2 linked regions of the Homo sapiens genome follow. The protein of the gene in region 2 interacts with the protein of the main gene of each other region in a pairwise test. Each region holds a gene or a part of one and is shown on either strand. Other genes may lie near its edges.

Region 1 (4,790 bases), on a different chromosome or scaffold from region 2:
CAAGGTCCTACTTCCATCTCCTTGTCCAGAACCTAGCACAGACCACGTGCTCAAGAAACTCACGTTGAATGAACAGCCACAAATACTTCAAAACCACGTCTGCTCAAACCTCTAGATTTAAGCAATATTTTGCTCAAAATGGGTGGGCTCCAGAATGGGTCTGGATCTACTCTGGGAAATGACTTTGTGATGACAACTTCAGAGTAAAGAATTTGGTTCAACAGTGTCTGGAAACGGATGGTCAGAAGCAAACGTCTTCCTCTCAAGTGCTGCTTCTCCATGTCCAGCGTGTCTGGAAACATTCCATTGCCATCTACTAAATAAATCAAAAACCTCCAACTCTGATAAAACCTGTGACAACAACATCAAAGGCCCAGAAGGCACTGACAAATCAAGAAGGGAAAAAAAACCTCTTTGATTTCTTTTTAAAACAATGATGGATTCTTTTCCCTGTAAAATGGGTGAAAGAAAAGTGCTATAAATTCTCATAGTGAGTGCAGTTAAGATGTGCAAAGACAGTGATTTTACATTTGGGATGTTAAGAGCTCAACTAATGAGGCCCTTCCTCCCTAGCCTGTGCAGCACCACTAAAGACCACTTCATTTTGAGTGGGTCAAGACCTCTGGAAGCACGAACCATGACTGACATGCTCTCATTTGAGCCCCGTGACCACCCTGAAGAGGCAGGGCGTTCTTTTCACAAGGGAGAAAAATGAGGCTAGGCGGCTCGCCTGGGTCAGCTGGATAAGTGGGGCAGATTCCAGTTTGTCCTGTTTCTCTGAGCCACCTCCTCCCTCCAGCCACTCTTCTTCCTGCCCATCCCCTGCAGAGAAAGGGCAGCAGAATGGGAGCAAATCACTTGGTTTAAACCCAGTTTTTGGCACACTGCCCAAGTACATAAAAAGAAGAGATACTTTTTTAAAAAGTCACTCTCTACAGGCCCCCCTGGAACTTACCATTCCAGGGAGGAAAAGCGGCAGAATGTCCAGTTTCATTGCACTGTCAAACACAGCAACTTAGGCCAGGCATGGTGGCTCATGCCTGCAATCCCAGCACTTTGGGAGGCAGAGGCAGGCAGATCACTTGAGGCCAGGAGTTCGAGACCAGCATGGCCAATATGGCAAAATCCCATCTCTACCAAAAATACACAAAAGAGCTGGGCGTGGTGGTGCACACCTGTAATTCCAGCTACTCGGGTGGCTGAGGCATGAAAATCACTTGAACCTGGGAAGCGGAGGTTGCAGTGAGCTGAGATTGCACCACTACACTCCAGCCTGGGCGACAGAGCGAGACCCTGTCTTAAAAAAATATAAAAAGATAGTAACTTAGGAAACAGCCCATTAGAGCATCTTTATTACAACCTGTAAAACCTGCACATGTACCCCTGAAACTAAAAGTTAAAAAAACAAACAGACTCTGAAAGACACATGGTTTTATACCTATTTCTTCAAAAAACCCACCCTAGGCAACTGTAAAACAGAATAAGCTGAGGAAAGAAACATTCACAAGCTCCACTCCCAGACCCACCCACATGTGATCTGCGCTGCCTAGAAGGTTCCAAGTAATCTGCAGAGACTCAAATAATGGGGATAGGAAGTGAGCAATAGCAGGAGTAAGGTTCCTCAGTCTTTTTAGGGCTGAGGTGGCATTACACATAATCAAAGCGGCCCCACAGATATTTTAAATAATCTACTTTATGACATTTTTTTTTAACTGGGTCTCACTTTACAGGCAAAGATGGGTGAGAAATGCAATTCTCCTCCAAAAGTTTTCATGCATTTTTTCTTTTCTTTTTTTTAAATTACGAGATAGAATACAACTTCCTGTCCAGAGTGTGCTCTTTCTATGGCTTTTTGCTTTTAAAGGCGCTTTCCATATTAAAGATGAATGAAAATGGTCACTATCTCTTTCCCCTTGGCTGAAGTACAAGGAACCTGAATTCCATTTGCACCACCTCCCTTACCTGCCTCCAACCCCCAACAAAGAGAACATCACAGGTGGGCTGCATGAAACAGAACGTGTAAATGCAGGTCCAAAATGACTTGGTGAATCACAGGTCTGGGGCCAGGTGTTTTCAAGCTTGCTCTCAAAGGGGATTAATAAAAAAACAACGGGGGAAGTCTAAAATATTTATCCACTTACACAACTTCAGACGATTTAAGTTCAAGGGCCGGCAGGCAGGCAGGCAGGCACCTTCCAGGCAAAGAGCTAAGGGAGACCCGGAAAGGGCAGGCTTTAGCAATTCCTCCTTTGGAAATTCAAACCTGGGGCCGCGGGCTGGGGTGTTAGCGGGGAGTGGGGGTGGTAAGGGGCTTGGCCAGTATCCTTCGTTCAAATGCAAATCCTTAGACTGAACGTACCTTCTCGGTCACCAGGATTACGGCGTGGGCCGTAAGGGCTGGAAGGCTGGTGGCCAGCGGCGAGGGGACTTTCCGGCGCGTCAAGCCCTTTATTATAAACCCAGAAGGTCGCTGTCACTCGCATTGGCCAGGAGGCCCACGGGCTCCGGGAACCAGCTGCTCAGCCGACAAACAACGCAAAGGCCCAGGGTGCCGGCGCTCCGAGCCAGCGTTCTGTGCCGGCTCCTCCCTGGGCGGCTGGTCCCCGGAGGAGGTGAATTCCGCGGGCACGCCCACGTCCCCATCGCGGCAGACAATGCGCAGGGTCCCCTCCTGCCGGCTCTCTGGACCCTCAGCTGTCACCGCGGCCCGGGCCGGGGTGGGCAGGGGACCCGGCTGGACAGCTAAGCTCGCCCCTGCCGGGGACTCCGTGGAGCGGCTGCCGGCCCCGTGCCCGCTCCCTCTGCCTCCACTTCCCCGGAATCCCAGCGTTGCCCCGGTCCGGGAACGCCCGGCATTGTCGCCGAGGGCCACTCTTCTAGATGTCGTATTTCAAAGACTTCCCTCCGCGAAAATAGCTTGAGACCGTCCCCGGCTCTCGGAAAACATCCAAACCAGCCCCCACCTCCCCCCGAAAAAAAAGAAAAGGAAGGAGAGGAGCCGAGCTCCGAGTGCGCAGGGCCCCGCGCCCGGCTCCCTGAGGGCGCCGCAGGTGCTGAGCGGCTGCGGCGCCTGAGCGCCGGCTGCCCCGCAGGTGCGGGCGGGGGGGCGGGGGGTCCCCGCCTCCCGGTCCGGCCCCGGCCCCGCGCCTCACCTGCGCCGCCGAGGCCCGCGCTCCGCAGCCCAGCCCGGCCCGGCCGCCGCGGGCGCTTCCTGCTCGCGACTTCCTGGAGCGGCGCGCGGGAGGCCCCGCCGCCCTTTCACTTTCCCTGGCCCGCGGGGCGCCGGCGGAGCCGCGCGGCTCCTCCCCCTCCCCGGCCGCCGCGACCCCCGGCTCCGGCCCCGGCCCCGGCGTGCCCAGGGTCGCACCAGCCCCGGGGCCACCGGGCGGGGGCGCCCCCACGCCTTGCGGCACTGCCCGGCCTTTGCGGGCGAACCCGGGTCATGGCCCGCGCCTTCCCCGGCTCCGAGGGCGCACGGGCTTTCGCTGGCGCGCTCCCCACCGGCCTCCGGGCAGTCCCAGGCGGCCTCTGCACCCCTGGCGCTCTGTCCTCAAGGCAGGTCTTCCCCACAGGCGGCGAGGGTCACATGCCGCCGCGCCCCCACCCCCAAAGAGGGCCTTTGCTTGGCCTCCCGGCTTCTATTCCTATTGTGTCATGTCAAGGGGCACAATCATGAAGACTAGCACTCCATAGCGTGGAAATGCGGCACGCGGATTTGGCTATGTCGAACCAACTTGTAAGCCAACTTGTGTCCCACCTCGCAGGCACGTGACAGAGGCAGCTCCCTGTTAGGCTGCGGGAGCCCGCCGGGTTCTTACCCTTGCGGGCCAGTGCCCTGGCACACAGGCTCCCACGTCACCCCAGAAACAACTCTTCTCCTTAGGCAGCCCCAGGGAGGGGCCTGGCCAGTCCCCTAGAAGCTACTGCCGAACACCCACAGTGGACCCCCAGGATGGCTTCAGAGCAGAGGGGGCTCCCAGCCCACTCCTCGGGGAAGAGCAAAGTGAGGCAGAGCGGAAATTTTCCGGGGAAAAAGCCTGCCCCCGGATAAAACAATGTTTAAGGATAAAACCAACCCGAGGCCTGGCTGTAAATGTCCCAACAGGCCAGTGCCCCTCGCACCCTTCCCCAGGCACGTTGAGCTTCCCTCTGGAGAATGGAGAAGGCATTCTTCCCTGTGTTTGGCTCCCCTGCCCTGCTAGGCCTCGCAGTTTCCCCCTGGGGCCCTGCTTTGTTTCTAGAACACTCTGATGTCTGTGTCTCTCTTTGCTGAGCTGGGCTGCGTGAAATCCATCACTTTGTTAGGCATTTGAGAAGCCTTCTGCAGGCAGAAAGAAAACCTGCCCACTTCTTTGCCACGCAGGGTTCAGCCCCAGGAAGCCCGCCGGCCCCTCATTCCGCAAGCGGGATGGCCCAGGGCTCCAGTCTTCTCCTTTTGGCCAGGTTTTCTTCAGACCTTCTTTCTCTCCGCAGGCCCCCTGTGCCAGTGCTTTCTCCTCTCTTTTCTAGCTCTCCATTCCCGGTGATAGCCCAGTGTGGCTCCCACCCCTCTCTCCAATGGTCTCCCCAGCCCTGGCCCTTGCCATTGGTTCGGCTCGAGGCTACCCCTCTCTCACTGCACTTGTGCAACAGCGTTCTCACTTCCAAGTTCTACCTCCTGCAATCCACTCTTTAAGCTGCCTCAAGTTGCCCTCCTAAAGCAAAATCTGATCTTGTCATTCCTGATTTTCAAACCTTTCGGGCATCCCATCACCTACAGGTTTTACACTTGAAAGGCGATAATACAAGCT
Region 2 (4,087 bases):
ACTCCTCAGGTTTTTGTACTAATTCAAAAGAAAGCAAAAACAAACAAAAAAATACCCAAACCAACAAAAAACCCAGGCATGCAATGCATACAGGTTATTTTCCTGTACCGTATATAAAATAAACAGCAGTTAAAATTCAACGTTAGTAAAAAACATACTTTTATGACAAATTCAATTGAAAGTTAAACAGAGTTAACTGTTCTCAGCCCATCCTCCCTCACCCCCGGAAAGTACAGCTTAAAGTTTTAAGCTGAATCAGATGCATGCACTTTTGCTACAGCAGGTAGAAAGACAAACACTCTTATTTCATACTGATGATTTGGCTTGTTTCTATGTAGGAGTGTTTTCATGGTTGAGTTAGTTGGCTAGTTTCTGTTAAACAATAGTAATAAGCACTAACATTTATTGAGTGTTTTCTTTATGCCAGGAACTGTTCTAAACACTTCACATGTATTTAATCATCATCCATATAAACTCTATTAAAGAAATCCTATAAAACAGGTACTATTATCCCCACTTTACAGAGGACAGAGAAGCAGAGGGATAAGTAATCTGTTCAAGATTACAAAGTAAGTGGCAGAGACATGATTTAAACCCAGGAGGACTGATTCTAGAATTCACACTCTTAACCTTTATTATTCCGCTTTCTCAAATGTCAATGAGAAATCTGACCAGCCAAAACTGTCATATTTGGCATACAGAACCAACATTTATACCTTAAATAACCCCATGTAACTGTTCAGAGGATCACAGAATTTTTTCCCCCCTAGGGACAAGTTAGAACTCAGTATTCTTTTCAGTTAAAGTTATATTTCATATTAAGTGGAAAAGAATACTTGTGCGTCAACCTATACTTGTACAAATCCTTCAGATGACTGCAAGATCTCTTTTCTGTGGAAGGTATTAGACCTAGGCCCATACCTATGAAGTTGTTGAACCTTGTCTGGGAGACAAATAAAAATTTATATAACTGAATGACAACTCCTACCATCCCTCATGCATGGCAGAATTTAAAGCAGTCTTCATTTTAAACAATAAAATATTTGTGCTACTGATATTCTTTAGATAATTAAACAATTGTCTATAAGACAAGACCCATCTAGGACTTGTTTTGTTGCTTTAATATTCAGTCTGTAATTATTTCAGGCATTGACAGAAATGCTATTATTCTTTCTTAATTTTAATGAAAGAGTCTAATTTAGAGCCCCAGAATAACAGTAATTTAGTTGAAGAACCTAGTAACTTGTTTCCCTCAGACTGACCCTTAGATACACATTTCTTTCTTTCCATTTAAGTATGTAACTGTTTCACTTCATTATTTCAAATTTTCAATGTCTTAAGTCTTTGTGGAAGTATATTGGACAGAATACATTATAACAAATAATGTAATTAGAAATTCTTAAAACCAAAACTCCTAAAATAAACGTTTTGAAATAAAGTATTTCACCATACCAACTTAACCTTTAATTTAGTTATTCTAAACAGAAATAAACTTTTCTGACTTTGAGCTAAATTAATACTAACTAAAAAATGATTTTAGAATGAAAGTCTCTAGACTAGGAAAAGCCCCTTTATAAAACAAGTGTGTCTAGAACTGTTTTTAATTTCTATAAATTCTTAGATTACCCAAATATATTAGGCATTTAAAAAAGCCTCTTTTTCTTTTTTGTGTTGTATATAAGGTTTCTATTAATTTAATGCAGTTATCTTTTTCTTTTATATTAGTTTCATTAAAACTATCCACCAGTGTTTCACGAAACTTGAAATGAGAAAGGCTTGGAATTGTAAAGATTCATCTCTCTTATAAATTTCAGTCTCATTCTTTCTTAAAGAAAATTCTGTATCACATCTCAATATTTCTGTTAACAATAAAGCACTAACTGTAATAAGAAAATTCTAGTGAATTTTAAGTGGGAATGAGTTTATAAATTCTGTTTAAAGTGAGGCTAACAGGGCTTCATAGGGTTACTTAAATCAGCACTAAAAAACTTTCCTTCTTAGCCCACAATTAGGAGTATGTGGATCAGATGGTCAAATTCCAAAGACACGTACTTTTTATATGAATTTTCTTATGGCTTCCTGCTTATGGCAACTAGATTTATGACTAGAATTTTCCAAACCTTAATCTTCAGAAGTATAATCCATAACTAGAATAGCTAAATAGACAGGTTTAAATAGTTGGCAAACTATTTTAAAAGATGTTACAGAGAGAGTAAGGACTTCAAGGAAGGAAATCTAAGATATAACACAATAATTACCTGCCTTTTAAATCCTTAACTGCAATCAATATCTCTGATTATAGCTCTAGACGAGTATTTTCCTACCACCCTACTTACAGTCCTAAATCTAGAACTTCAGCTCAAGATGTACCCTCATTTTTAGTAGTTTCCACTGCAAACTCTAAAATGATTCTTTTCACTATACTTAGACTGTTAGTTCGCTTTGAAGCTGCCTGTGTCCAAGGTCCTTTTCCACTAAATGACAAAAAATCTGAATGCTATGGCTAAGAGTGAGAAAATCCAATTGATTAGATTTTCTCCAAACACCAGTTTCTCTGACTTAATTTATTCTGAGAGGCCTCCCATTAGTTCCTTTCCATGAGACATTCCAAGTGCCTATAACCAACCCTACAACAGGAAACTTAGGTGCATCTTTTAAGACTCAGACACAAACCTTACCAGAAAGTCTTCCAAAGCACTGCTTCTCAAATGTTAATTTGCATACGAATCACCTGGAAACCTTATTTAACTGCAGAGTCTGATACAGTAGGTCTGAGATGAGACCCAAGAGCCTGCATATCTAAGTACCCAGGTGATGCCGATCCTCACTCTCCATCTTAAGAGCAAACTCTGAGTGGCAGTTCTAAATAACACTTTCAGATAACATTTACATTTCAATAAATAAATGCCTCCCCTCCTTACCTCTATATTCAGACTTAATTATACCTGAATTTACTCATCTGCAAGATCAATGGTAATCTCTAAGGTTCCTTCCAGCTCAATAAATCTAAAATTTACCACCTCTATCCCTTCCTACCCCCAATTCAACAAGCAGGCAAAGTTTATTTACAGTAATACACTGAAAAGTATGAATGACCCTTTCCACTTGATGCTTTAATCCCTTTTTAAGAAGCTGCTGAACATAGAACTAAGTCCCAATCATTTATTCTTTCTGAGTAAAAGTTTGTGCTGATTTTGTTATTTTGTTCCTAGGAAGAAATATTTTAATATTCTTATTCAGAATGCCACATACCAACTCTGGAAACAGAAGGCACCAAAAAGTAGATGTGTCAGCCTTGCTACCTTCTGGATACTTTGTCAAGTGCCCAGATATTTTTCACTGAAATCCTACCTGACTTTAAAAAAATCTCCTACTTGATGCTTGAAAATAACAGCCAAATCTATCTAAAAACTCTGCCCCTAAATTATGCTTTTTTTTTTTTTGGTCTGAGATTTTAATCTCTCTCCACCCCCAGGCTCCTTAAATTTTAAACAGTTAACAATAGAAGAGTCTCTTGTTGTTCTGTAATCCTGAGATGATTATTCTGGTTTTCCTTCAATTATGACAATCACTTTATACCTGTCAAAGTCAGATATACCTGCAATAGCCAGAAGAAAAGTAGATTACATTTTATCAGTGGACATATAACAATCAAATCCTAAAAGAGACTTAGATAATCTCACATGCATGACATCTGTTCTCTACAGGAGTTAAACTGGATTCTAATGGAAATATTCTAGGGGGAATTCTAAAATTTTAGTTGTTTTGAAACTGTAAACATGTTAAGTGGTGGGTGTAATATATAATGCATAATATATTAAATTCACATATGTATGAACATCTGTGTAAGTAAATTTATTAGAAAACTATGCAGAATATTCAATATCACATCCACACCTAAAATTTTTTTAAGGTTAATATTTCTAAAGTGCTTAAGACTATATGAAGTATGCAGTGTTTTATAAGAGTTTGTTAAATAAATTAAGTACTACGTCTAACCCTGAGATTTTCTTTTCAAATCAAAAGTCTGTACTAATTATTTTATCTCCAGTTTTTGGAGTGAATGATGAAATATAGAAGGGGAAAC

Evidence for each region.
Region 1: the proteins of HTR2B (region 2) and SLC37A1 interact in a two-hybrid assay, tested with the Homo sapiens proteins (one large-scale study listed by BioGRID and IntAct).

The regions. Positions count from the first base shown.
Region 1 is NC_000021.9:42,512,287-42,517,076, reverse strand, and holds the start of SLC37A1 (glucose-6-phosphate exchanger SLC37A1), read right to left. Parts: upstream 3,226-4,790; 5' UTR 2,360-3,225; intron 2,208-2,359; exon of another isoform or gene 2,142-2,207; intron 1-2,141. UniProt on the Homo sapiens protein: Inorganic phosphate and glucose-6-phosphate antiporter. May transport cytoplasmic glucose-6-phosphate into the lumen of the endoplasmic reticulum and translocate inorganic phosphate into the opposite direction. Independent of a lumenal glucose-6-phosphatase.
Region 2 is NC_000002.12:231,114,547-231,118,633, reverse strand, and holds part of HTR2B (5-hydroxytryptamine receptor 2B), read left to right. Parts: intron 1-4,087. UniProt on the Homo sapiens protein: G-protein coupled receptor for 5-hydroxytryptamine (serotonin). Also functions as a receptor for various ergot alkaloid derivatives and psychoactive substances.